3 separate regions of the Homo sapiens genome follow, and regions 1 and 2 are each reported to be linked to region 3. The links are microRNA targets in miRTarBase. Many come from high-throughput screens and were not tested one by one. Region 3 holds a microRNA gene; each other region holds the end of a gene's coding sequence.
Evidence for each region. The annotated mature microRNA hsa-miR-616-3p reads AGUCAUUGGAGGGUUUGAGCAG and lies in region 3 at 4,468-4,489, opposite strand. An mRNA with a match to its seed (bases 2 to 7 or 8) in the 3' UTR can be bound and repressed. Matches are read on the target gene's strand: a 7mer-m8 pairs with bases 2 to 8, a 7mer-A1 pairs with bases 2 to 7 and ends in A, and an 8mer does both.

Region 1 (10,168 bases), not on the chromosome of region 3:
CCAGTATATAGCAGTGTCTGGCACATGTGAGTGCTCAGTAAGTGGTAACCCTGGAAACTATTACTCCTGATTCAGTCAAATATTCCTCTCCAAGGGGAACAAAAGGGCATTAAAACGAAGATGGAAGAGGCAATAGAGATTCTGGGACCACATATTGCCATGCAAGCACAGAGCACAGTGTTCTCTGTAAGTGGCCGACCACCACAACATGCAAGGTATTAGGAAATCTTGGTTCTGCCCAGCAAACATGCCTCCAGCATTAAGATACCCCAGTTGTGCTTTGAGGCTTAACCTAAAACACCGCGCTGAGAGTGGAGAGCTGGATTTTAGCCTTGTCTGCCATCATGTTAGCTGTACTGACATTTGTGGACTTTCCAGTGCCCTAGAAATGCTCGAGCGTGCTTCACATTGACTCATTTGATCCCCACCATGCCCTGAGACAAGCTCAATTATTTCCCCCGTTTTATAGCTAAGAAAGCTGAGGCACAGAGAGGCTCAGGAACTTGCCCAAGATTGTAGGTGCCAGGATTCAAGCTTGGGAGATCTGGTAGCAGAGCCAAACTGAACTCTGATGCTATAAACTATTTTGCCCCAGACAATAATCCTTTTCCCTCTCTGGGCCTCAGTTTGCACATCTGTCAAAAAGGCCCCTTTGGTGGGAAGATCTAGCTCTATGGCCCCTCCCAAGTCTTAAGCTCTCTGAATATGTCCACTCTTGTGTAACTTTCCAGACTACTCTGCCCCGTCTGGCCCTCGAAACCCCACCTCCAGCATTCTGCACCCTTAGGACTCCCCTGACGCCTGTACCGTATTCATCTTTCCAGGGGTGTGTGTCCCCAGTCTATGTAGCCCTGAGCCTATCCCATCTATGGTCAGACGCTGTTCTCAGTATTGGGAGAGTTGCAAAGATCAGGATTTGGCAAACTTTTTCTGTAAAGGGCCAAATAGCAAATAGTTCAGACTTTGAGGGCCATGTGGTCTTTTTGCAACTACTCAACTCTGCCATCGTAGTAAGACAGCAGACAGGGCAACACACAGATACACGAGCGTGGCCAGGTTCCAGCAATGCTTTTCTTACAAAAGCAGGCAGTGGACAGGATCTGGCCTGTAAGCTGCAGTTTGCCAACCTCTGTCAAAGATAAACAACACAGGGTTGCTGCTCTTAAGGATACAGGGAGTACAGAGACAACAAACTGCACAGCTAATCCGAAGACGCGGCAGGACTTGCTAAGTGCATTTGCGGAGGCATGGAGCTCTGGGAAAGCCCAGAAGAGGAAAAGGCTGGTTTTGACTCCAGGCATGCAGAGGTTTCATGGACAGGCATTTGAGTTTGGCCTTGGAATGATGGGCAGAATTTCCACAAGCAGAAGGGGCAGGTGCAAGCAAGGACACGTGGAGGCAGGCTGCTGGTGCGTGCTGGCAAAGCAGCACATCCTGAGGGCGAGTGTGGTGTGAACCCAGGACCCAGACAAGAAAGATGTTGAGTGCTGGGCTTCTCTCATTCTATAAAGAAAGATGAACTACAAGATTGTTTTTTCTTCTTTTCATTCAACAAACATTTTGAGTGCCTACCATATGCTGGGCACAGCTCTAGGCATGAGGACAGATACGACATTCATAATTTGCATTTTCATTGTACTGTCAACATTTTCAAAGAGCTCTGGGAGCCACGCTTTATCTCATCCTCATAAATACAGAGATTGAATGATTTGCCAAAGTTTTATCATTAATTAATAGCAGAAGCTCCTAATTCCAGATACAAACCACTCTACTGAACAACGGACCCTCCGTCCTAGTTGCCTGGTGCTTATCTCCGCCGGGTGTCTGGAAAGTGCTCGCCCTGTTCTTCTACCCCTGCATCAGTGTGCTAGGGCTGCTGAAACAAAGTGTCCCAGACTGGGTGGCTGGAACAACAGAAATTTATTTTTCTAGAGCTAGAAGTCCAGGATTGAGGTGCTAGCAGGCTTGGTTGCTTTGAGGGCCGTAAGAAAGTGTCTGTCCCATGCCTCTCTCCTGCCTTCTGGTGGTTTGCTGGTATCTTTGGCACTCCTTGGTTTGTAGATCCACCGCCCCAGTCTCTGCCTTCACTGTCACATGGCCTTCTCCATGTATGCATGTATGTGTTCAAATATCTTTTTATAAGGACATTAGCCACTGAATTAGGGCCCACACTAATAACCTCATTTTAACCTAATTACCTCTATAAAGACCCCACTTCCAAATTAAAGTCACATTCTGAGGTACTGAAACCTACCTTTTTGGGGGAAACAATTCAGCCCCTAACACCTCCCCAGCACTTCACACCCCACCTCACATTCCACTGCTGATTGAGCTGAACCTTCACTTCCCAGGTCTCACACATCCATCCCTTTTCCCTTGCCAGTGGTGTGGTGGCCCAACCACACCAAAATAAAAAACTGCCTAGGCCAGGTGAGGCCAGATCCCATGACTCCATCCAAGACAGCCCAGTGGCCAAGGAGGTTGCACAGGGTCTCCCCCACTCCCCACTGGAAGACAGCAGGGGCAGGGTCCAGATGGTATAATCAGTGGGTACACCTGGAGGACGTGCAACAACCACGTGACCCACTGGCATTTTAGAATGTCAACTCCAGCATCAGGGATGGTAGAGAGACGATCACAGCAGGAAGACTAGTCAGGAAACAGGTACGGCGGTCAGAGGCAAGGAGAGAGAAAGGGTCCGAGCTGGGGACGCTATGGTGAGGATGGAGAGGTGGTGGCAGAGGGAATGACATGGCTGGGACTGCGGAACAGGGTGCAAGGGTGGGCAACTGAGCCAAGCGTGGAGCAGAGTGCTGAAGACAACGAGCCCACAGAAGAATCAGCCCCCAGGGGAAACGAGAGCTCTTTAGACGCGCTGAGAGTGAGGGAGCAAATCTTGGTAGATACTGAAGTCTGGAGCTCAGGAGAGAGGCAGGGGCTGGAGACCAGTTTTGAGAGTCCTGAGTGGATTAGATCACCTTGGGAAAGCAAGAGGCAGCAGGAATGGAGGCTCAGTGAAGTGCAGTCATGGGCCAAACCCTGGAAAAGACAATGTTTTAAAGAGAGCTGGGGCACAGATGTGAGAAAAAGGAGGTCCAGAAGGGTCCAAGAAGCAGGAGGAGAACCAGGAGAGAAGGGTGGTTCCTGAGACCAGGACGGTTCAGGAAGACCAACAGCACGCACTCCTTCGGGGCCCCCCTGCTGCTCTCTCTTGCTGGACTTTGCTTAATGTGAGCAAACTGTCACAAATAAGCTGATTGAGCTCCCATCAAAAGAAAACTGCAAGCATGCCTCTCTCATCTTTTAACTGTTTATTGTATAATATAAAACTACAAAAGTAAGACTGCTCATTTCCATGTACATTTAATCTGTCCAATTGTTTAGATTACAGCCCAAACCTACATGTGAATACAGCCATCTGGGTTCCGATGTAACGTCTGTAATATTGCATAGAAAAGGCACAGCTCTCAGGTCTGTGGGGGAAAGGTTATACCTCCTTTTTGACAAAAGCCCTCCTCAAAAACCATGCACCAAACATGTCACTATGTACATCTTTTTTCAAAATCTCGGTCATGCGCACATATGGCCTGCATTTCTCTTCCAAAACTTGTTATCCCCAAAAGAAGTCCAACTTTTTATTGGCTTTGTCTGCAATAGCATTTGATCCTGGCTAATTTTCAAGAACCATTCAGACTCATTCTTAGAAACACTGAAAACAATTGTACATAAGCAGGATGCACACAACTCCATGCCTCCAGGTGCGGGGCAGTTACAGGAAGGTAACCATTTACAGCCAGAAAAGGTTAAATATACTCTTTTCATTGTTTTCAGAAAATGTATAAAGGTCCAATTTGTAACAGCAAGGTTTTCAAATTAAGACAATTCGTATAGAGTAGCAATTGCTGCACGAAGTAGAGTCTTTTTTTTTTTTTTTTTTACATTTGTCATTTAAGAAGGCTGCCCTGCGGTATTCATAATTCATTGTTTACCACAAAGGTGGTTCATAAATTTAAGCTTTAAAAACGATCTGTAAGTTGATACTTTGGCTCTTTGGAGCTTATTTCATTAAGAAATTTTCCTTGATTGACCTCAGGGCAGCTGGGGCACTCCAAGGGGCTATGGCGATAAAAAGCTCAATTGGTAAAGACACTCGAGAGGTGCAGAGGAGGCTCTGGCCACTGCTCACCCTTTGGTATGAACAAGGGTGCCCATGTGGTTGCTCCTTCTGTCATCCAGAGAAAGTGCTACTAAAAAAACTTTAAAAAATATCAACCCTTTGATGCTTTTCTTAAAAATTTGGAGGTATTAAAACATTCCTCATACCTTTTGCATATTTCAAATAGACCCATATTAGAGAAGAGTAAAAATGAATGCGGACTGTGCATACAATGAGAAGACCTGGGGGCCTGGCTTGGACCCCCTTTTAATACAGATTTACATTCCTACAAGAGAATACATTCCTACCATACATTCTGCACATGTTACGATCCAGATGTTAGCGCTCCACAGTAAAATAAATATATTTACACAGAAAAAAGGAATAAATAACTTATGGGGGGAAAAAAACTCACTTCAAATTCAAAGCTCTTACGATTCTGCTCTCATCTTGTCACTTCATTGCACATCAGTGTCAATAACTGTCCTCTCCCAGCCCCAGCTCGGTTTTCTCGTAAAGGCACCTCAAGCTGCCTGCCTGGCCCTGGATGCCATGTGATGTCTTTCATAAAGGGAAGGCACTGCTGGAAGCACATCCCACACTCAAACTGGGACTTGGAGATCCCACTCCAGCTCCTACTGTTCCCTGTTGGGACATCACTTTGTAAGAATAGGATGCAAAAGCAATTAGAACCCTAGATCATTTTGATCTTTCTGAAAATGGGCTGCTAATTTTCCATGTCTTTCTTGTTAGACTTTGAGTATCAGGGATTTATGGCAACGGTGTCAGAGTTAAAAAGCATTTGCCTGCTGTTTTTGGGGTTTTTGTTTTGATTTTGAAGCCCAGCCTTACAAATACATAAGAGTCAGAGAACCAAGTTTGGGCAACACTTCTCCGTGCTTATTTGAACTGTTGCCCAACATATGGGATTTGTTTAAACACATGATTTGCTAATCCAACAAAAGTACAGTTGTTGTAAGTTACTGTAAATCAGTTTTTAACAATGGCAAACCAACTGTTTTACCCTGTTATTGTTCAGAATCATCAATACTATTGTATATGTGTACGTAGGTAGATGTGTGCAGCATGCGGCAGGTTTGCCAGGTCCTCCAGTTATAGAAAGCATGGAATCTGGGCAGACTTGTTCTCTGCAAGAAAGGGAAGCTCTTAAAATTAACAGGCATACTGACACTGGAAGCATCTACTACAACCCTCACCTCAGTTACATGGTCCCTGGTCCTATTAAAGGAAATGACACACCTGTAGCAGTACGAGGTGTCTGCGTGGAGGTTGCTTGTAGGAGAACAAGTGCAATTTGATCAGTTTCTCACTGCTCTACTGAGCTGATAATTAGCCTTTAAAACACATTCAAGTGGGGGGAAAAAGTAAATTAGAATGTAGAAAGCCTTTATCATATCATACTCAAATCTTTTGCTTAGATGAGCAGTTCCTTCATCACAAACGTCTTTGCTTTGCCATGTGCATTACAAAAATAAAACTAACTATGGCTTGCTTAAAGTGCCATTTTATAAAGTTGTCTTTTTTAATTAGCCAGAAAGACCCAATTTTATCCATGGCAAGAAGTGAGCAGAATTGGTGACTGAATATTGACAAATGACCAACAACAAAGACAACAACAACAACAAAACATCCCATAATTTAAAAATTTTTAAATAAATATAAAAGTTATTCCTAAAGAAGCCATCTGCATAACAATATAGGTTGTAACCTGCACTCAACAGCTAAAGTACCATTGGAAGAAAAGAAAAAACTGAAACAAGAAGGCCATAAACAGTTTCGGCAACAAGCATGATACATTGCAACCTTTTTAAAATTAAATGTACACCACTAGGAATAAAAAGCTACTTCTCAAGTGTGTCCTGGGAGATAAGGTGATGGGGGGGGGAATTGGGGGGAGGAGGGAAAACATGCATAGAAAGTCCTGTCTGAGTTTTGGGGTAAAACAGCCTTGACAAGTGTGAAGTAGCTGACTCAGGAAAGCAACCAGATGGGAAGCTGTGACGTAATGTGATGAACTCCAGGTTCAAGAGTCACACATGTTGTAAGAGTGCATCCCGGGCCGGCCGAGGCGAGCCAAGCTCACTGTGGTGATCACGAAGATGCCATTTTCAGCTCTTAGCAACACAGGGAAAGCTCTAGGGAAAGGAAGCTGCAGAAGACAATTAAGCAACATGATGGATGCCTTCTGGGGAGATTTTCTTCTTTAAGGGCCCTAAGCATTGCAACAGGGCTGAGTTCCATGAAGAAGTTGGTTGCTTTTCGGATGTAAAATTTTGTTCGGATGTAAAATTTCAGGTCATCATAAAAATTATGCCAAAAAGGAAAGATCTGGGTTTTCATTAAAAAACAAAATAAAAACAATTAAAAGCGCAAACTTGGCATAAATACACTCTTAAGAAAGACAGTAGCTTTACCCTCAAAAGAGGGAGCAAAAGAGAACCATCACTTAAACCCCCAGCTCCACAGCCATCTCCCGCCAACTGCTTAATGCAAGTTTGATGAGCACATGTGGCTCTGGCTTTGGAAGTCACAGTACTGGCGGGTGTTGGTGCCAGGGGGTCAGTGCTTGTGAAATTTGGGTGTGATATCACCTGGCCCTTTCTTAAAGCACTGTGTGTGTGTTTATGGGTGTGTGCATGTGTGTGCCTGTGTTTGCATTTGGGGACATCAACTGCAGATTGATTTGATCCAATTTTCTCTTGCACCATACACATATAAAACATTACAACTCTATAAAAGTACAAGTGCAACTTGTACATCTGAAGTTTGCAGGAACTATGTGAGCAAATCCTATCAAAATAGCTATCTCATATGTATAAACAGCATTTGTTTTTAGAAAAACAATATCATAAACTGCAGAATCTGTACAAAAATATAAAATAAATTTGGGCAGCAGTTTTCTAAACAGCCATGTAAATGCAACACTTACGAGGAGTAGTTAATGCCTCTAAAAAGGCCGAATTGCCAAGTCAACCTATACAGGGCAAAAATGCCAGAAAAGGTACTGAGATTATCTAAATAAGATATATATATATAGTTTTCTTCTTTACCTCTTGCAATAAAACTTATAGAAAAAATAGACAAATATGCACATGCAATTTACAGCTTTTCCAACTTAATCCTTGTGCTTCACTTGAACTGTTTATTTTTGTCATTCAACATTGCAACATTGTCTTCAAATGGATTCTTTCCTATACCAGGGTAGTAGGTCTCTGAGGAACCACTCAAAAAAGTGTATTAAAAGTGGTCATACTTGGATGAAGGCACTCCAACTCTGCTCAAAGCAAAAACTAGTGTGATCCTGTTGTAAAATTTTCTTTTTCTCTGAAAAAGGCAAGCAAGGGTGCATGCACAGTGTGGAGAACTGTCAGGGTTATGGGAACGCTCTGGGGTCTGGGTGGGCATAGTCGCTGGGTCCCTGGGTCTTAGGACCCAACAAGCACCTCCATGATGTGGTCCAGCTCTGTGAGGTCCATTTTGAAAGGCTGACTTGGGGTGACAGGCTGACTGCTGTAAGGAGCCAGAGTTTTGAGGAGGTCGTCGGCAGACACAGGGGCCATTTTTGAGGCTGTCCCTGATGAGGAAGTGCAGGGGTCAAAATCATACATGGACGTATCAATGTCAGCAAACAGGATGTCATCCAGGGTCAAGTCTGTCAGGAAACCCGTGGACGTCGTTATTTCAAAATTCCCAGGCAGAGAGTCCATCAGTTTTGAGTCATCTGCGCGGCTCTCTTGAGGACCGTCGAGTTTCTGGGTGCCAGCCTCGCTGGAGGTCCCTTTCACACTGTCAGTCGCAGCCGTGGCCGCCTCTGTGGAGGTAGATGTGGGACAGAGCTCCTCGATCTCGTCCAAGGCAGAGGAGAAACTGTCCTTTTCTGGCAAGAGGGCTGGAGGTGACAGTTTGGTGGGAGCCGTGGGCTGCATGGCCTGGGAGGTGCAAAACGTGTCATCGTCGTCCTCGAGCAGTGAGGCCGGGGTGAGGCAGGCCTCCAGGGGCGTAGTGCTTCCGAGGTCGCAGGGGTGGGAGGACGGGGACGCCAGGTGGCTGAAGGCCGGCGGGGCCTCTCGGTAGCTGTCGCTGGGCTCGGTGGTGGGCTGGGAGGAGGGGGTGAACATGGGCCTCAGGCTGCCTTCCTGTTTGAGTTCCTCCTGGATCCGCCTCAACATGTTGTTAATTAAAACGGTCTTTTGCAAGCTGGGCTCTGTCAGGGGCCTGTGGTTATAGAGTTTCATAAGGGAAATGTTGAAGATAGTCTGGCGCTGTAAGGTGTAAGACACCTTGGATGGACCGTCACAGGGAGACACGATTTTGCCTTCCAGCCCATCTTCATGCTCATCAAACTTCCGTTTTCCTCCTTTACCCAACATATATCTGCAGAGGGGAGAGAGAGGAAATGGCATTAATCACATGAAAGCTGATTTCTCCCATAAAAAAAGAGACTGATTTAGAGGGCAGGACTTGGACCTCAGTTTCCTGCCCAGGGTTATTTACAAGTACACGTGGATTAATTAGGGGTGGGAGGAAGGAAGACCTTTTACAATAAGAGAGAGTTAGAAAATCCACCTTTGTATGCCTGTGGAGCAATTTTTATCACTAGGTAGTCTGGTGAGTGTATTTCTTGAGAAATGTGTACGACACAGACAAGTTAAGAATTACCATGGAAACCATGATTTTGACTTTCTCAGCTCATGTGCTTGTGTTCGCATGCCTAAGATTATCATGCAGGTTCGATTTCCCTCCCCCACGTAGATTTATTTTTAAAGCCCAAGAAAACACTTACAATGCTATGACCTAAACAGATACAGGTGTCATAGATTACAGCTTGAGCACTTCTTAAAGGATTAAAAGAACCAAGTTAAAGAAAGGTAACATGTATAATTTGGGTAGAACTGTGTGTGCTTTCAAAATGCTTTTCCTTCCTCATTAAGCACGGAGTCTTTCTGCCTGGTTGGGGACATGTGGTGAAGCACTGCACCTGTGTTAAATGACCACAGTGACTGAGCCGCCGCCACTTTTCATTTAGAATCAAGGGGAGGAATGCGTATGTCCCAGCCTAAGTTCTTCCTTGGCTCAACTTCATCCACACACAGTTATGTTTGAAGACAACTGGATTAATTTTGAAGTAATTAGCTCTGATTATAAGCATTGCTGTTTGGGTACTCGAGACATTTCCTAACAAACTACCTCCTGTGATTCCAGAGATACATGCATATTTTGAGGAAACCATGACCTCATATCTCAGACCCTGAGAATCTGGTAATGGGTTGAATTTTAAAACTGCAGCCAGGAACTCCTGCCCCATCTTGCCTGCTGCTCACAGGCCAGGCTGTGTCCTCTCTTGCTCTGGCCTTAGTGAATACATTTTATCAACTGGTTGTCACCTTCTGGGGAGTGGGCCTTCCAACTTTCCAAGATCATGTGACATCGTCACAACCTCCTTTCAGAACTTCTACTGTCTAAACAGAACAATCTCAAGTTCATTAGCCTTTGCCTCAAAGATCTCACTTTCTAACCATTTAACAAGAAACCTGTCTTTTGGTGTTCGGACCAGGATCGTGGTTCGAATGAAGCCAGGCCCATGCTTGCTCCCTCACCGTCCCCGCCTCCAGCTACAGCACTCTCAGGGACTCCTGCTAATCCTGTCCTCAGTGTGACTCACTCTCATGTCTTCATATACAGGCAACTGCTTTGTAGTTATTCAATTTCTCTTCTAAATGCCACTTACCTTTTAATGAACTGCTTCAGCTGATTGATCACACCTCATTCAATCCTTTAATAACTTATCCACATCTACACTGTCATAGGCATTTGGCCAGGCCCAGTGGGGAGTCCCACATGAACACCCTGGCCTTCAAGAGGCTAAATAGCCCCTCCTACACCTGATCACCATTTTGAATTTCAAGTCTCGACCTAAAGAAATAAGGCTAAATGGAATATAAACTTCACAGAACTTCTTTCTCATACTTTGTCACAAAGCAGGCCATGCTG
Region 2 (10,168 bases), not on the chromosome of region 3:
ATCTCTTCCTTCTTGGCATCAAATATTTTTTTTGCTGCCTTAAGGACTCATTCAATATTATCTCAAGGCCCAGCTGAAACCAGAGTGTAGTTCCCCCCCAGTCTCCTTGATACTAGATGTTATGCAGCTTTTAAGAGTAATTCCAGTTTCACTCACACTGAAGATGCCAGCTAAAGATACTCTTCTTAAGCAATCCCACTGGCTTTAGGATCAGCAGGCTTTGATATAGACCCATGCCTCCTAGTCCACAAAATACTCCTTGTGCACAAACTTGAAACTCTGAAGAAACTGTCTTGTTCTTGGCTTTTATAAGTAGGTAGTTTCCAATCTCTGCTCGGTAAGAAGTACAAGTTCTCTGTTACTATGACTTAAATGAACAAACCAGAGTTGTTTGGTTGAGTATGGAAGTTATGTAAGTTAACTTATGCCACACCAGATGTCTGGTCAGAATTGCAATAGAAAGAGGTGCAGAGTGGGCTAGAGGAGACAAATGGAGAAAGCAACTAACCATAGCCTAATTTCAAAGGCCATTTCAGATTCTTCTTAGCACTCTCTCTCCCTCTCCTGGGCCGGGTGCTATGTGTTTCTCTCTCTAGCCCCCTCTCCCTAACACTTAGTGTTAGCAACTAAGTGACAAGATGAAAAAGATAAACTAGAAGCAAGTTCTGGCAATAACATTTTAAAAGCCACTAACACTGGCTACAGCAAATAATTGTAAAGACAAAAGAAACAGCAAATGATATGTTTATCCTGATTTATGAGAAGCTGAGGATGAAATGTTGGGACACAATGTTTATACAACGTCATGTTTTGAAGACTTTTAACCTTTTGAGTATGACCAGCCATACACAAAGAATAACGGTGTCCACCAACAAAGCACTGAAACAATCATTTGGCTGAGACTTGCAGATGACCCATTCTATGCCACGCCTTTATGGTTCTACAAACACCAATCAGCATTTCCTTACAAGTTTAACAAGGTTAAAGAACATTAAGGCCATTCGTATAGTGGTAAGGGGTGTCTATTATTAATTCATCCAGCATTTACTAAACACATTAATGTACCAAGTATTTTTAATGTAAGTTGGGCAAAGAAATATTTAAAATGATTAAGACATCATTTATGCTTCTAGGAGCTAATAGTCTAAAAAGGAAGGTAAAAACCCATAGAAGATGTTATGGAAGAAGAGTGGAGAGTATGCCAGGAGGGAGGGTAGGAAGAGTATCACCCCTTTGCTTTGTATATAGAATGTTGTATTGTAGGAGCAAGCGAGTTTATGGTGGGCTACAGTTTCCCAAAGTATGTTCCCAAAATGCTAATCCTGTAAATCTGGGACAGAGAATGGTGTGGGTGGTTCTATGGTTAAACGCTATGTATTATAATTGTCCTGTAGAGATTCACTATAAAAGTTAGCAGATTAGCAGCTCTAAGAAGTCCCCTACTGAAAACAAAAGTGCAAAACTGTTTAGCATCTCCCACATATAATTAATCATGGAACCCTTTTACAGAATGCCACCTATAAACAATCTTGAGAACAACTTTTGGGAAAATAGGGCGTATGTCCCTCAATGGCACTAAGCAGCTGTCAACACTTCAGGGGAGTAGAAAAAGACCAGGAGAATCCCTTTGTGCTTGACTTCTAGGTTCATTTCATTAGTTCTGTAATATTTCAATAGCTACTCAATAAAAAATAATAGGAATCTGTAATACAAGATCAAGTGGGAGGAAAAATGCAAAACCATAGATGACTCCCATATTCTCATTTTTATCGCATATGTTGGTCTTTTGAAATGTCAACTCTTACCAGAGATAAAATTTAAAAGATGCTGATGCTGGGGCATGACATAGGCTATGGACCTTGGTTTATGGCTGTGCAAACATATAAATGTCAATTATTGGACCACTCCTATAGTCTGATGGAGAGAAACTGTTTAAATGAAACTCTTCAGTTGCAGTTTCAAAATACTGAAATAGCCTGGCCCATCTAACCAGACTCATCCACATCAACTGGTCTCATTTCTCACACTGCCAAGGTGCCCAGACTAATACAGACACATTTACTGTATTTTAGCTGATAAGGGGTTTCATAGTGAATCTCTGCTTATTTCACCAACATTCATTTAAAATGTTCAGACACCATCCTATATAGTCATGAAGTCTCGGAGATTAGTAAAAGCCTCTCATGACTGTCAAATAACCATTCTTTAACCCTAAAGCTCTTTGTAACTTTGGCACTGCATTTCAGTTTGCTTAATTAGCTAGTAAGAGGGGCTAATTATTGATAGTGAAATTTGTTTCTTAAAGACCCTAGAGAAAAAGACCAACTGCTAAAATAAATCAAATTCTTTGCTGATTTTAGGACAAGTGACACTAGTGAATGTTTCTATTGATTTTTACTTCCTCTGGCCCTTCCTGTCCCCTTCACTGATGCTGGAAAATAACTGTTCCTTACAGTGAATATAGCCAACTCCCAACATCCTGTGCACATCTTACAAGATGGATGGAATGCCGCATATTCTTTATTTTGGTCTGGTTTTATTCTCTCATGGCATTCATGGGCTATCTCCTGTGTGTGCGTGACAAACACAAACCAATTTAAGCGTTAGTCTAAGATGAAACAAAGCTCCCTCACACAATATGTGTTCATCAAACTGATCATTTTAACATTCATGCCACAGATACCTCCCAGTGGCATGTTGGAGCTGACTAGCATACACTTTCTGAAAGGCGGCAGTGTTTGAATGGAGGAGAGGGGTGGGATGGGAGTGGGCTTTCAATCAGAATATTCTCAACTCTGCTTTTCAAATGTGTGATCTCAGGTGAGTTCACAGCTCACTCTAAAATGAAAGGATTGGACTGAATGATTTCCTAAGTTTCTTCTGGTTCTAAATCTTTCATTTTTTACTGTGTCATCAAGTATCCTTTCATCTTTGGAGCTGTTTAAAAATGGTTAATGATTAGCTTACAAAAATCAGCCAATTCCTCTAAATTATCACTTAGTCCTATTTGCTAAACTTATAATCTGTGAAACTGTTAGCACATAGAACATTTATACTAACCTCTCATTTGCTTTGTAGATTCTAGCCCATGAGGCAAATTAATTGCATAACTGATACACCTAAGTATACAGAATACAGTCATGCAACACTAGACACATTCATATTACTCTGAATTGTGCCTCAATAAAGCCTGTAATAAAAACCTGTGACTTTGTCATTTAAAAGTGGCTCTTAAAGTGCAGTCCAAAAAGGCATTCAAGGGAAATGATCTCTGAAGCTTGGTGAAAATGATTCCCGGGCTACAGAATCTGCATTTTAACACATACCCTATGATCACTGAAGTTTAGGAAATACTGGCTGAAGGAGGGATTGTAGTTTTAACTAGAATCATTTCTGAAAATGAACCACTGAAAAAATGGGGCAGTGCTCTGAATATTATTTTGGGAGCGATTACATATTTTAACAAATTAAATATATATAACAAATTAAAGTTTGGTAACATATTGAGTCTTAAGAATTTTCCAAACAGCTACCTGAGCCTCCAGTAAAAACAAAAACAGAATTTTCCACTCTTTCCCTAGCTACACAGTAAGCAGCATTGGATACTATAAATTTTGTAAGTACATTTTTAAAGAATGTGTTCTAAATGTGTTAGAAAAATGTTAATGAGCAACTCACATTTTTATCATTTTCTGTGGTTAGGCCAAGATGGCTTTTATGTTTCTGAAGCAATCCACAAGGCCAAGATTGAAGTTTTGGAGGAAGGCACCAAGGCATCTGGAGCCACAGGTATGTTCAGAGAATACCCAGTCACACTGCTTACCCATATCTACCTTTCTGAAATTTACCTAGTTGAATCTTCACACTTCTGAATCTTTCCATAACCCCCAAGTTCAGGTGTGGTGTAGTATTTTTTAAAAAGGAACACTAAAGAAAACAAAAAGTTTTTGAAAAATGACGGGGAAGAAGAGATATCCATCCCATAAAAATAATTCTGAAAGTTACCTTCAATAAGGAATTTATTCCATGGAATGTGTTGAAAACAGGAGACAGGATTGGCTAAATGGCATCTTTTCTCTTTAATTTTCCCATCTGCACCCCCATCACAACAGTAAACAATCAAATGCCATTAGGATGCTTTGATTTCTTAAAAAATTAACTTACTTCATAACCAATAGTTATTTTCTTAAAAATGCACAGAAAATGCAATGGAATTTTTCTTTCTTTCCTGCAGCTCTGTTGTTATTGAAAAGGTCTCGGATTCCTATTTTTAAAGCAGATCGGCCATTCATCTATTTCCTGAGAGAACCTAACACAGGTATTACAGTATTTTTTGACAGGATTCAGATAATTTATCAGTGTCTCTCTAGCAACAAGGGCTCATTTGTCCACTATCCCCTCAAAAATAAGCATTCTTTCTAGCTGTTTTTATGGTGCTTCAGAAGCTACCCAGTTGCTATCTTCTATCCTAAGAAAGGGGACTATTTCGTAAGTACAAAGGAAACTTATCCTCCATGTTTTTTACCTTCTCATTCTCTCAGCTCATATATAGTTAATGTAGATTTTTTTTTTTAATGCTATAGGTTTCTACTTCTGAAGACACTTGGAAAAATCATGAAAGTAAAATAAATTATAAATCTTGCCCTTTTTTCCCTTTGTCCCCTAGCTTTCTTATCATTTTAGAGTTTTTTCAGGTCACTAGAGTACACCAGAGTAGTCCTCTTGTGATCCTAGTATTCTAATGAATGCACCTGGATTTCTATACTGTTCTGTTGATCTTTCTCAAAAATCAAATGTTTGCCCTAGTACTTTTAAGTCCTACTACATAACCTTATGGTAATCCAAAGATGGTGTGGTACCGGCAAAGCCTCAGTACATCAGAAGGACACACAAATATTCTTAGGCTTCGACAATATTGAACAAAGTCTTTAGATTATTTCTCTTAATGTTCTTCCTCCCCCACTCACAATTACTTAGCCTAGGAAGGAAAAGAGATTCTCAGTTAAGAGTTGTTGGCAAGTCTAAACAGTGTATTAAAAAGAAATAGGATAGAACAAGACTAATAAAATCAAGCAAAGGTGGATCTACTTTAACTAAACATCAGGCATTACTTTTATTTATGGAGAAAAATGTCAAAAGTTAGAATGAAAATTATGCATAGTTTTACATAAATTGTTAAGGAAATACTGTCAACATCATTTTATCTGAGAATCATTTGCATCCTGCTGTACCTTGTGCTAGAAATCAAAGGAACATTTTTGTGACGAGAAAGATATAAACCATTCACTAGAAAATAATCTATTTGGGATTATTTGGAGAGAAAAAGTCCATCAACAGAGTATGTCTTCCTAGTATTTCACCATGATCATCCCAACCACATAACGATTAGATGAAAATATCACTTATCACCCAGAACAGGCGGCAGAGAGCCTTCTCTTAGAAAGGACACGTCAAAAAAATGAAAGATGAGAAAAAGGACAGGTTCTACTCCCTAAGGAAACAAAGAGACAGGACTACATTTGAACAGAAAGGTCATTGCCAAAAGCCAATAGCCAATAAAGGTTGATAGGTAAAAGAGAGATTCTGATTTTGGAATTCAAGTGCATAAAAATGATGTAAAATCCTTAAACAAGGAAAAGACACACCACTATTTCAATGGTAGGAGTTTTCAGAACTGCCTCAGTAATCAGAATGAAAATATAAGGATAATCCAAAACCAGTTCCACAATCCACTGGAATTCTAATAGTCCTTGTGACTTTACCTCTATCTGGGAGGCATTAGCCTACATCACACAACACAGTGGCTGCTCTTCTGGTGATGGTTATGGAAGAGTTTAGAAATGAGTCTCAGCCTTCATTATTTCCAACTGACAAATCTTACTAAGAGCAACTAATGAATCAATCAGCAAATGAGAAACATGGGAGACATTAAAAAAAAAGATTTGAAAACCTCAAGATTAAACTTTCCAAGAATATCATTTGTCGAGCCTTAAGTCATTCAGTGACATAAAGGGCCTAAAAGACATGATGTTTCCCCTAGATGTATTTCCCTTCCCCTTTGACAATAATTCTACAACAAGTATTCTAATTTAACTAATATACCCATTTTTTTTTTAAATGAAAAAAGCCTGAGGGAGATGAGATATTAACCTTTAGTTCTGATAGGTTTCAAACCCTCCTGACCAGGTTTTAGGATGAGGTGAGAACAGTGGCAGAGAGATAAAGGACAAAAAGAAGAGATGAACAAAACTGCTACTTCTCACCTCCCTCCAGGGTTCATTCAGAAAAATGTATTAAAGGTCATGAGCAATCTGTGAAACAGAAAATAAAACTTTCTGATAAGGAAAGCTGCTCAATATTGGGATGGGCTGAATCTCTTTCCTAGATACTCTTGTTAAGTATGAATTTTTATCTGAATGACTTCTAATTCCTCCTAGTAATTCCAGAATCTAAATATATATAATTTAGGAACAGACAATATATTCTGGATTTTGTGTAACTCTCAATGAATTTAGCAATGTGACTACAGGCAATTACCTTAACAATTCCATCTATTAAATGTTATCTTGCATTACTTAAAAGTATTTGTATAGAAGTAAACAAAGCTTAAAGAACTGCATATGAAAATACTATATAATATTAAATTCTTCTTTTTCTTGACAGGGTTTGTCTTCAGTATTGGGAGAGTTTCAAATCCCCTAGACTAAATGCATGTTCTCCACTTTCATCAATGCTTTTCTTCATAAAGTTATAATTTCATTTTGCTATACCCTTGAAATTTAAAAAAATGTCTGATAAAGTGTAAAAAGCTAAGGGTATGTGATTTTCAATATTATAAACCTAAAAATACTTCAGTTTTTAAATGTTATAAGTTTATTTTGCCTACTCTTAATCCAAATCTATTTTGACCTTCTTTTCTACTGCTTACCCCCCAAACCACTAAAAGGCACAGCAGTGATCATGAATGGTGAGTGAGTCAGGCCATAAGATTGCTTCCTCAGTACGGATACTCTAGGCCATGTTGAATTGAGGGTGGAGAATGAATAGCGTGGTTTTCCTTATCCTGTGAAACTCAGGGGGGATGCAAAATGAGCAAAGTCATCTTAAAGGTGTTTCCTTTCCATTTAGCTTATAAATAAAACAGAGTTTAAGTGTGAGAACAGCAGAGCAGAACAAGGAGGCCTCCAATTTGTTGTGGGCTTTTGCAAGCATGGCATGAAGCTGCTAAAGGCTAGATATTTCAGAGCATGTACTGTACTCCAAACCTACCACTCCCTAACAGCTTCAGCTTCGTGCCATCCACAATCCTAGTGATAAAGGAAAAGGTGTTGAAGTAAGGAAACCAATAATATCCAAAGTTGTTTGCTTTTTAAATAGCTTTTAAAGTATCTGTCTATCTGCCCCATACAAAGTCATTCCCATAATCTAGGCAGAAATGGGAGTATGTTGGCATGGCCAACAAAAACTACGAACATATAGTAAAAAGGCAATGCAGATTATGTAACATGTAATTACAGTTAGGCTTAACAAACATGAACTTCAAGTGGTGTATTTTTCCAATGCTAAAAAGCAAGGCCTTTAAAATTCCATTATCTTAGGATGTTTTTAAATGATTACTTTAAATGTGATTATTTCCTAAACCACACAAGAGTAAAATAGAGCATTTATTGATGGAATAACAAAAGTGCTTTTCTTAAATATTCTTCAAAATACATTTGTACAACTTACAATAATATATCCAAAATAACTGTATATACAAAACATTACCTAGTTTTAATGTATGTGCTTTTTTCCCCAAAAATTACAAAGTAACTTCTTTTTTTTTTGGCAAAGTTCAACCTTAACAGAGGTGACAATTTTAAAGGTTGGTTTAAGAAAATAGAACCTGAGGGAAATTGACACGCAAGAGTCAATGACAAGCAAGAGATTTGGAGGAATATTTTTAGTTTGTTAAATTAAAAATGTTTTTTAGAGTGATACTTTTCACATTACAAAAATAAACCAAAATGAAGAAAAGGTCACTGTAAAATGATGGAAAAAGGATCTGTAGATTTGCTTTTAGTATTTCAAATAGCCAACAATGCATGTCAGAAAATGAATGCAAGATCACAACAGTCTTGTATTTACTTTGTATTTGAAGAAGATAGTGAAATAAGTGGCCACATTCTATTTTCTTTTAATTGCTATTAATATGGTTGATCTGATTGGCTCTTCGATGAATTTCATCCAAGAAGTTCTCCAGTTGTTCTATTAGCATTCGTTTTTTAAACCTGTATGAAAAAATAAATAGTACTCTCAATTACTTTTTAATGAATAGTATATATCAGTATAATTTTTTTAAGAAAGGAGAGAAAATTTTGGGAAGATTTTTCAAAGTGAAATGAAAATAGAAAAATCAATACTACGACAATATAAAATATGTTGAAAGATTAGCAAATTATTATCCTAGTACAGTATTATAGTTTGTCCCTAAAACACTCTAGGGCTAAACAATGGGAAAGAGGTTGTTCCTTCCACAACCGAAAAGAAAAAGGAAAAAACAAACAAAAAAACAAAAAACTAATATATTCAAAATATATTCAAGGGCTGCAAACACTCTAGTGAAATTTGGGCTCCCCAAGCAAATACTTCAATAGCTTCTTCTCATGCTCTTTGTAAGCTGAATATTGAAAGGAATGTGAACAAAGTATGAATATAATCTCCCACAAAATGGAAGAAGAAATGAAAATTGGTCAGCAGCATTTAAAAACCATGGTATTCTATTACAATTTGAGAGCTAGCAAATCAAGGATAGACATCTATAATACAGAGTATAGCAAGCAGTTAAAGTTCAAGTAACAACTTTTAAAGATTTTCAGTAACAAATATGGACAGACTAAAATTGCATCTGTATACGTAACTGCTGACGGTTTTAAGAATATCCCAAGACACTGGACATTTTATTCCTACTTCCTTGCTACTTAGAAGCTAATATAAATAGCCACCATAATACTACACAACTCTCTAAAAGGTGGCAGAAGTGAAGTACAGATACCGGGGATATAAATTCCTAATGAGGTTTTAGCTGACAGAATGTTACCATAAAGAGCATAATAGGTTAAATACTCAAAATTACATGAAAAGTTATAGCCTTATCTTGATCCTGCAAACTGGCCTATGCTCTAGCCACTCCAAAAGTACAAAAAGAAAAGAAAACCAGAAACAAAACCAACTTTATCTAAAATCTTCATGTGTAGCATAGAAGAGACAGGGGGACAAAGTATAAGTGTGTTTACATTTAGAAGGTGGGATGTGATAAGCCCCAAGTTTTCTTATAATACTAAAATCCCCAAAATCTTGAAGGGAAAATAAAAAATGTTTTTAAACTCATACAACTATGTTTTCCAGTTAATTGCACTTCTTAATTACCATTTATAACCTTTATCCACCTTCTTTACACAGTGATCCCTCGGTATGGATGGGGGATTTATTCTAGGCCTCCCTATGAACACTAAAATCCACGAATGCTCAAGTCCCTTGTATAAAATGGCCCAATATTTGCATGTAACCTATGTACATTCTCCCATATGCTCTAAATAATCTCTACATTATTTATAATACTAATACAGTGTAAATACGATATGAATTAGACTGAATTATTTAGAAAATGACAAGAAAAAAAAAGCCTGTACATATTCAATACAGATACAACCATCCATTTCCCCGCCTCCAAATACTTTCAATCTGTGGTTGCTTGAATCCAATGAATGTGGAACCCAGGGATACAGAGGGCCAATGTACTAATGATCCTGGGCTACTGAAACAATCAGAATAAGGCCCATTTGTCCAATTCTTGTCTCCTTAATTACGTTTTCCCATGTAAAAATAAATGACACTCAAGTACGTTATTTTTAGTCACCAATATTAATGTATAAAGGAGAAAAATTAAAGGTTATAAAATATTAATGTAAAGATATCAAAAAGCTACAGAGAAGAATAACAAGAATTCTCCAAGTATCCAGTAATTTGTAGGGAGAAAAGGTCCATAATTCCTGAAGAATGTATGTGTGGCTGTTTTCTAAGTGAATTTCTTTCAATAAACTAAAAAAGAATAAGAATTTATTTATATGTTGGTATGCCATATACATTTATAAACAATACAAGTGCAAAACGGATACTATTAAAATAC
Region 3 (8,943 bases):
CAAGAGCTGGGATGTTTGTGTCTAAGTTCTTTGGGGGCTATGTGCCTGAGATGGTGCTCACCCCTGATGATCAGCGCCTGCTGGCCCATGTCACCCTGGAGCTCCAGCACTATCACCAGCTACTTGAGAAGGTTCGGTAAGTAACTGACACCTCTGTCTTTTCTGCTGGCATGTTGAGAGCCTCCTTGTATTGGTCTCTGTAGGACATTACACCTTGGCCTGCTTCCTCCCTTCCCAGGATCCGGGATGCCTTGCGCAGTATCCTCACCATATCTCGACATGGCAACCAATATATTCAGGTGAATGAGCCCTGGAAGCGGATTAAAGGCAGTGAGGCTGACAGGTAGGTAAGCGGGGAGGGTTGGCTAAAGGCATAAAGTGGCTTGTAAGCTGTATCCTCCTGGAGGTCTTGACTAATGTCTCCTCTTCCTCAGGCAACGGGCAGGAACAGTGACTGGCTTGGCAGTGAATATAGCTGCCTTGCTCTCTGTCATGCTTCAGCCTTACATGCCCACGGTTAGTGCCACAATCCAGGCCCAGCTGCAGCTCCCACCTCCAGCCTGCAGTATCCTGCTGACAAACTTCCTGTGTACCTTACCAGCAGGACACCAGATTGGCACAGTAGGTGGAAGAGCCAGCCTCTCTTAAAATTGATACTCTTGCCATGCAGCTTTTGGAGTGGGTGAGAGAAGACCTAACATCTCTCCAGTGTTACTTTGGTCATGGGACTCCTAAGTTTCTGATATAAAGTCCTTGGTAGTCGTTCACAAGTCCGGAATTATCTGTACATCTTCATTGTTCTTCATGCCAGAAACCAGAACCTGGCACACAAAACTAACTGGTAAACAGATATTTGAAGAAACACTGTGATCACCTAGTCTCCATAATGCTAGCAGATAGTGGGCAGGGAAAATACAGGAAAGCCATTTCCTCTTTGACACAAAATGAAAAAGTAAGTACATTGCTAAACTTCTGGATCAGCCTAGCATCCTTAGAGAGCTTAAAGAATCTTTGACCCTACAAATTATTTGGGGTTTCACAGGGAAAGCTACAGCTAATTTCCTAAAATCAGCAGATATTAGCTCAGTGTTAAGCTCGTTCTTTCTAAAACACATCAGAGATTGGGGTTGGAGAGGTCATCTGTATAGTCTATGGTAGAGTCTGTATCCAATCAGTAGATGATTCTGGAACTCTTTTTTTACAGGTCAGTCCCTTGTTCCAAAAATTGGAAAATGACCAGATTGAAAGTTTAAGGCAGCGCTTTGGAGGGGGCCAGGTGAGAAAGCTAAAGGCTGTGCCCTCGCTCCACAACAGCCACAGCATCACTTCCCTAATTTCCCTAAGTAGTCCTCACCCATCACTCTTTCCATCTTTTGGCCCTGCCGCTTCCTCACTTACAGTTTTTCTTTCCTGTCTTAACTAGAAGAGACCTTCGACTTAAAGGTAACCACTTTCCCTCTGAGATGCTGTATAAAACTGGAGGTTAGGGGATATTTATGGTTGCTGGTGATAACTTTGTTGTTCTCCAGGCAAAAACGTCCCCGAAGCCAGCAGTTGTAGAGACTGTTACAACAGCCAAGCCACAGCAGATACAAGCGCTGATGGATGAAGTGACAAAACAAGTATGAAGCTTAAGCCCTGTGGGAGACTGGACAAGCTGAATCCTAAATAGATCTTTTTCTTGCCTCACTGTTACCTCCCCACCCCCCTTTATCTTAGGGAAACATTGTCCGAGAACTGAAAGCACAAAAGGCAGACAAGAACGAGGTTGCTGCGGAGGTGGCGAAACTCTTGGATCTAAAGAAACAGTTGGCTGTAGCTGAGGGGAAACCCCCTGAAGCCCCTAAAGGCAAGAAGAAAAAGTAAAAGACCTTGGCTCATAGAAAGTCACTTTAATAGATAGGGACAGTAATAAATAAATGTACAATCTCTATATACAAGCTGAGACCTTTCCTTTTGTCTACTCCAAGCCTTCCCCCTGCGTATGTGGGATTGAGGGTCACATCATTGGCACTAGTGAGAGGGTAGTCAGTAGCCACTTCTGGGAAAGGTGGGTAGTGTGGCCCAAGTGGGGGACTGATGCTCCCAATTGTTCATGCTTGGTGCAGATTCACCATTCGGTCAATCAGAGCTCGGCGAGTCGCCTCTACTTCCCTGGTCAGGCGCTCGATTTCCTGCTTGAGCCGTTCATTCTCTTCAGCTAGCTGTGCCACTTTCCTTTCATTCTCCTGTTCTTTCTCCTTCATGCGCTGCTTTCCAGCCCGGGCTGGGGAATGACCACTCTGTTTCCGTTTCCTGGTTCTCCCTTGGTCTTCCTCCTCTTCCTCCTGAGCCAGGGAGCTCTGACTGGAATCTGGAGAGTGAGGGCTCTGGGAGGTGCTTGTGACCTCTGCTGGTTCTGGCTCCTCCTCAGTCAGCCAAGCCAGAGAAGCAGGGTCAAGAGTGGTGAAGATTTTTGATTCTTCCTTCAAGGAAATGAGGAAAGGGAACATAGATATTAGTTGAGAAGGGAAAGGTAACATCCCCCTTTAGCTTTAGGGCTAACATTCTTACCTCTTCATTTCCAGGAGGTGAAACATAGGTACCCCCATTTTCATCTGAAGACAGGACCTCTTGCAGGTCCTCATACCAGGCTTCCAGCTCCCAGCTGGACAGTGTCCCGAAGGAGAAAGGCAATGACTCAGCTGCCATCTCTGCAGTTGGATCAGTCTGGAAAAGCACATCTGCAGGATAATGGGGAGTGGCTGGAACAAGCTCCATGTAGCAAACAGTCTATGCCACAAGTTGGCAAGCTGGTCTGATGCCTGTTTTTGTAGGTAAAGTTGTACTGGAATACAGCCACATCTGTTTATTTACATATTGTTTATGGCTGCTTTGGTGCTACAGTGGCAGAGATGAAGAGTCACGCTAGAGACTATAGGACTTTTAACATCTAAAATATTTACTGTCCTGCCGTTTAAAATTTTTGGAAAAGGGTAGGTTAAGTTTACCTGCTTTCAGGTGTGGTGATGTATGAAGATACACTTCCTTCTTGAACACTGTGGGCAACAAAGAGAAATGTCAGCCATTTTTGGAAGGGGGAGAGGCAACTTACTTTTCTTTTTCTTTTTTTCTTTCTTTTTTTTTTTTTGAGACCAAGTCTTGCTCTGTTGCCAGGCTGAAGTGCAGTGGTGCGATCTCGGCTCACTGCAACCTCTGCCTCCTCGGTTCAAGTGATTCTTCTGCCTCGGCCTCCCGAGTAGCTGGGACTACAGGCGCGTGCCACCACGCCCAGCTAATTTTTGTGTTTTTAGCAGAGATAGGGTTTCACTATGTTGGCCAGGATGGTCTCCATCTCTTAACCTTGTGATCCATCGCTTCCCAAAGTGCTGGGATTATAGGCATGAGCTACCGTGCTGGGCCCTTATTTTTCTTTTACCTCCAGCCTCCTACTGGTCCTTCCTTACTTCTGGTCTTGTGGGGTATGCATACTTGGTCCCTGTAGCCATTTCGAAGGGCAGAAGAGGGCCTGACTTTCTTTATTTTTAGTTGCTGACATTTGTAGTCCTGGTTACATAATAGTAAAGTCCTGGCCAACTCAGCTTTCTCTAAATCCAAAGCAGGCCTCAAATCTGCCAGGGTAAAAACTAAACTACAGGGAAGGGAACAAATCATAGCATTTTCCTAACTCCATTCCCACAGGGCTGACATCCTCCAAATGTACATTTCCAGTCTGGACCTCTTCCAGAACTTCAGACTCTGCTGTCTACTGCCTACTTGCCATTTCTTTTTCAATGTCTAATAGGCACCTAAGACTATGTGCAAAGGCAAACTCTTGCTGATTTTCCCCTTCCAAGGTCATCCCCATCTCAGATGACAACTCTAGTTGCTTAAGCTAAAAACCTTGGTATCATCCTTCATTCCTCTTCTCTCACACCCTGCAATCCAAAGTACTAGCAAATTTTAACTCATTCCTTTTTTTCTGAGACGGGTCTCACTCTTTTTGCCCAGGCTGGAAGGCAGTGGCGCAATCGGCTCACTGCAACCTCCGCCTGCTGGGTTCAAGCGATTCTCCTGCTTCAGCCTCCGGAGTAGCTGGGATTACAGGCATGCACTGCCATGCCCGGCTAATTTTTGTATTTTTAGTAAAGATGGGATTTCACCATGTTGGCCAGGCTGGTCTTGAACTCCTGACCTCAGGTGATCCACCCACCTCTGGTCTCCCAAAGTGCTGGGATTACAGGTGTGAGCCACCATGCCCGGCCCTTAACTCATTCTTTAAAAATGAGTTTTTAAAACCTTTGCTTAGAAGAATCTAAACACTTCTAATTCCATTGTTTCCAATCTAGATCAATTCACTACCATCTCTAAATTACTGCAGAAACTTTCTGACTGCAGAAGGTCTTCCCATTTCTTCTCTTGCCACCCCTCCGCAACTCTATTCACCATACAGCAGCCTGAGTGAGCCTTTTAAAACAGGTCATTCCTCTGCTCAAACCCTCCAATGACTTCCTATTTCATGTCATGGAAGTCACTGAAGGGTTTTGAGTGGAGGAATTACCTAAGGTAATTCCTGACCACCTGATGTAACACTCTGACCTCCATCCTGAACATTCTCCATTCCTTTCTCTGCTTTAGCTTTCTCCGTGGCACTTATATTTTGTTTACTGTAGGCCTCCCACTGAGATGATTTTTTCCTCTTGCTCAAGGATGTACCCTGAGCCCCAAACTGTGTGGCACACAGTAGGTCCTCATTAAGTATTTGTTAAGAATGAATGGATAAACTCCCCCCAGTCTCTCTTATAGGGAAGGGGCAGAAGCAGAGTGGCAGCTGCTGATCCCTAGGGGCTAGAGATGCAATATTGCCCGAAGTATTTCTCTGCAGGGCTGTCCTCCCTGGGGAACCCTCCCTTGCCTTCCAGTGTGTGGGACTTGGCTTTCATCAGCAGTAGAGCCTCAGGTCAGAAGGCTGCAGAGCCAAACGGGGCTGGCCTGATGCAATGGTTACACAGAGATTAGCTGGGAGACAGGACCGGGTTAAAGAGGCAGGGACTAATCCCGAGGGAAGGACAATACCCTGGGGAGACCCCAAATGGCCTCCTACACTTAAGAGATCCAGGCTGCTCTCTTGTGCAGGAGGCCCAGAGACCTCTACGGCAAAAGGAAAACACACCACTCCCTGTCCATCGGCACCCCTCCCAAAGGCTTGTGTCTCCTCAAGGTTCCCCTATCCGCTGCAGGGTCCAGTAGCCCCAGCTACCAAGGTGGCCATGCTGACACCAGAGGCACTGAGACTGAGACAGAATTGGGGGTGGGGTAGGGAGAAGGCCCGCTGGTGGCGAAGCGGCGGAAACGGCCTGAGCGATGGTCACCCAGTCTTAGAGCGGGGGTGTGTCCTGCTGACCTGCCTCCCCGCGGACAGGCCTAACGATGAGGCCTGAAGTTGGCTACGGGAAAGAATGAATTTCCCAAGGGCAACCGAGGTCCCTTTGCCCAGCAGCACAGAGCAGGGCCCGTGTTCCGGCTCCGGGCAGGGGTGGAGAGACGCCGTCGTCCGAAGCAATAGGGGTTTGTAAGCACCACCCCAGAATAAGGGACTCTCCCCATTCCTCTCTCGGACGGTCCCTAACTTCACTGTGGAGGAGTGAGGCCGATCCTAAAGAGCGGACGCCCCAACTTTGAGGAGACGGGAGGGTAAAAGGTAGATGGGAATCAGTACTCGCCTCTCTCCTCAGGTTCCAGCTCTGATTTTGGCTCTGTCGCTGCCACCCGCTCATCTTTAACATGATACGCTCAGTGCCTTAGACTTAAGTCTCTGACCTCGGGAGCGCCTGGCTGTAATCTTTTACCATGGCCTTGCCCTCCTCTCAGGGGCGGGACCCCAAAACCTACCAATCAGAAAGTGGCACGCCGGCATTGGCCCCGCCCCGTCCCTCGCATCCGCCACTCAGGAGCCCCGCGGCACCGCCCCCGTCGCTCCCTCTCGCTAGGGGGTCGACGTAGTGTCGGACCCGGAAGTGGCTTTGGGTCACGAGGCTTCACGGAGGAGGTGGGTGAGTCATGCGCGCGCGCGGAGGGGAGTGTAGCGGGGGGGGAGGGGAGGAAAGGGGGGCGGGGATGATGCAATGTTTGGCAACCGGTGTCTGCACGCGCACGCGCAGGGGACACCGAGGGTGGTGGGAGGTGCGGAGGGTGGGGGAGAGGAGAGAGGGCGGGGCGCCAGCTCCCGGCGCCCAACGGCCCCAACGGCTATCAGCCTTGGTCGCCCCTAGTCGGTCGTGAGCCTCTTTGCCGCTTGTCTCCCCCAGAAGCTGCTGTTCCGCCCACCTAGCTTTACCCGCCGTTTTACCCCCACTATAAGGGACTCCCATATTTCTTGGCCCCTCCCAGCTAATGGGCACATAGGCCTTTTGAACTTTTCTTTTTAAAGTTGGTATCCATCCACTGGGATTGTCGACATCTCGAGTCTTCTTAAAGAGGTCTCCTGGCCGGGCTCAGTGGCTTACGCCTGTAATCCCAGCACTTTGGGAGGCTGAGGAGAGCGGATCACTTGAGGTCAGGAGTTCGAGATCAGCCTGACCAACATGGTGAAACCCCGTCTCTACTAAAAATACAAAAATTAGCCGGGTGTGGTGATGCGCGCCTGTAATCCCAGCTACTCTGGAGGCAGAGGCAGAAGAATCGCTTGAACCCTGGAGGCGGATGTTGCAGTGACCGAGATCGCGCCACTGCACTCCAGCCTGGGTGACAGAGCGAGACTACGTTTCACCAAAAACAAAAAACAAAACAAACAAACAAAAAAACGGGGGTGGTCTCCTGTTCTAGCCCCGTAAATCTCCCAAAAGGGGCCGAGGTACTGGAATCCCTTGGTAGTCATTTTCCGCTTCTCTCAGAACAGCGCCCTTGACTTTTACCTTGTAGTTGGTAAGCCCTCAGCCTGCCAGAAGTCATGTATTTTGCCCAGTGGACCCGATTCTGTTTGGCCACCTATTTTCCCCCACGGTACTCCTATGGCTTTCTCCAAGACCCTCTCTTGCTGTACCAGACAGCAAGTCCTGTGACTCCCTGTGTGAGGAGCGCGGCACAGGCCTGCCTCCTAGGTGTTCGGGTCGAGATTTACAGCGGAGTCTCATCCCGGGACGTGTGAGTGCACTTCAGCGCAGGACTGCCCTGGACTGGGGAGACCGGAGCCGCGATTTTAGACTCAACTCCCCATCACTTGCCAAGGGATCTTACCGTCCTTGTTTGTAAATTAAAGATAAAAGTTGTGAAGGTAAAATGAGAACCATGAACTTGGAGGCAACTTGACCAAAAGTAAAACGCACCACCCAGAATGCAAAGTATTTTTCTTGTGCCTTGAAAACAGAGGCCATGTGGTGGCCTGTTACATATCCTGTCATACCCTCATGGGGGCAGCCAGAGTTTAAGTAGAAACTGTCACAAGGCCGGTTGTGACTGGAGTGGTGTGGCAATGACAGGTCTTTGGTTAGGCTGCTCCGCTGCTCCACACCTCCATTTCCTCTCTGAAAATGGGGGTAGTGTGGAGGGTGGACCAGATGGTCTCCCCTGGCCTAAAGACAGACCAGGTTGTCAGTGACAGGCAGAGGTCATGTGACTTGACAGGCTGAGGTCGTGTTGTGACATGTTGACCTGGGGAGGCGGGTCAAGTCCCAGCACACTACCCGGGAAGCCTTTGGGGCGGGGCAGGGCAAGTCGCGACTTTCATCTTTCGGGGCCTGGCCCCTCCCGGACCTGGCATTCCTGGTTCCCGCAACAGACTGTGGCTTTGGAAGGGGCCCCTCCCTGAGGAGGGCTGGGATTGGCCACCAGTGGCCTGGGAAGAGGCGCAGATCCTTCCGCGGAGGGCGGGGGGGCCGCGTGGGGTGTTTGTTCTCTTGGGGATTAATGGGGGGTTGTGGGGGAGGGGTAGGCGCGCTCCCGCATGCGCACTGCAGCCCCTCCAGTTGGCTCGTCGCTGTCCGCTGGGCGGGGGCCCGGCCCCGCCCCTCTCCCGTCCGGGCAGCGGCGGAGGCGGCGGCTCCTGCGGCGGCGGCTGCGGCAGCGACGGCGGCGGCGGCAGCGGCAGCAGCCTGCGCAGTGCCTTCTGGGAACGGAATCCCCAGGGCTGCCCCTGGCCCCCATGGCGCATGCGCGGGAGGCCGCTCGGTGATCCGCGGCGGCGGCAGCGGCGCTTCCTGCTAGGACCGGCCGGGGCCGTACCGGAGGCTCGGGCTCCACCGACCCTCCTCCCACCCCCTCCCACTCACCCTCTGGGCCGCGACTGCGCAGGGCGGGGCCGGCCGAACCATGGGCCGCGGTGAGTGCGGGGCCCGGCCCCCCCCACCCTGCCCCTCCCCCTCCCGTCCCTACCCTCTGCCCCCTCCGCGTCCTCTCGGCCCCTTTCCCCGGCCCCATCCCCACTCCCCCGCCCTCACCTGCCCCCGCCGCTTCTCCCTCTCACTGCCAGACTTCTGCCTTCCTCACCGCCCTCCCCTCAGTGCTTCGCCCACCCTCCGCCCGCCCTCTCCCCAAGTTCCTTCCTACTTCGTGCGCCTTCCCCTCCTCCTCAAGCTGAGGGAAGCAGTCTGGGTGACAGGGCGCCTTGTTGTGAGAGGGAAAGTTTGGAAGCCGCCAGTGTGGGGTGGGAGCAATGGTGAGGCTGGGGAGGATACCTGCAGGTTGGAGGGGCTTCCCCTTCTATCGGAGGACAGGCTCTCTTGGAGATAATCGGAAGCCAGTGGAATAGGAGGTTCTGAATCCCTTTGCCGTAGGCTTGAGGGAAAATCAGGAGCTTCCCAGGATCCTGGGAGAAGACTGAGCTGTGATCCTCACCTCTTAAGACCCGAATGAACTATATCAGCGATTGTCTGATGGAGCAGGCATGGGGGGAGTTCTGCTGGTACCACCCCAGCGGGCAGTTGGGCAATTGCCTGGTGACCTGTGGGGCAATCTGTACTTTTTATA

Region 1: miRTarBase lists SERTAD2 as a target of hsa-miR-616-3p. Seed matches in the 3' UTR shown: 7mer-A1 at 7,327-7,333 and 7mer-A1 at 3,943-3,949.
Region 2: miRTarBase lists INTS6 as a target of hsa-miR-616-3p. Seed matches in the 3' UTR shown: 7mer-m8 at 5,532-5,538.

Annotation. Positions count from the first base shown.
Region 1 is chr2:64,628,325-64,638,492 of GRCh38, forward strand. SERTAD2 (SERTA domain containing 2) reads right to left here. Exons shown (of 2, transcript NM_014755.3): 2 at 3,297-8,551. The coding sequence starts at 8,547. The coding sequence ends at 7,603. SERTAD2-AS1 (SERTAD2 antisense RNA 1) reads left to right here and starts at 8,600. Exons shown (of 2, transcript XR_940172.3): 1 at 8,600-10,168.
Region 2 is chr13:51,357,576-51,367,743 of GRCh38, forward strand. INTS6 (integrator complex subunit 6) reads right to left here. Exons shown (of 18, transcript NM_012141.3): 18 at 4,002-8,270. The coding sequence ends at 8,177. It overlaps SERPINE3 (serpin family E member 3), which reads left to right. Exons shown (of 10, transcript NM_001386375.1): 8 at 3,703-3,789; 9 at 4,235-4,318; 10 at 6,664-7,160. The coding sequence ends at 6,707. Among named protein-coding and RNA genes, the nearest start is that of MIR5693, 14 kb to the left of the region's middle.
Region 3 is chr12:57,514,716-57,523,658 of GRCh38, forward strand. It overlaps MIR616 (microRNA 616), which reads right to left and starts at 4,544; the gene lies at 4,448-4,544. MARS1 (methionyl-tRNA synthetase 1) reads left to right here. Exons shown (of 21, transcript NM_004990.4): 16 at 5-136; 17 at 239-343; 18 at 435-621; 19 at 1,205-1,276; 20 at 1,530-1,622; 21 at 1,720-1,937. The coding sequence ends at 1,866. It overlaps DDIT3 (DNA damage inducible transcript 3), which reads right to left and starts at 5,799. Exons shown (of 4, transcript NM_004083.6): 1 at 5,703-5,799; 2 at 2,991-3,038; 3 at 2,554-2,723; 4 at 1,878-2,465. The coding sequence starts at 2,691. The coding sequence ends at 2,094. LOC128125814 reads right to left here and starts at 5,765. Exons shown (of 2, transcript NM_001414991.1): 1 at 5,703-5,765; 2 at 2,997-3,038. The coding sequence starts at 5,765. The coding sequence ends at 2,997. It also overlaps MBD6. RefSeq lists enhancers at 4,635-5,596, 5,567-5,696, 5,571-6,770, 5,597-6,556, 6,557-7,517 and 4 more and silencers at 5,767-6,226, 7,941-8,340.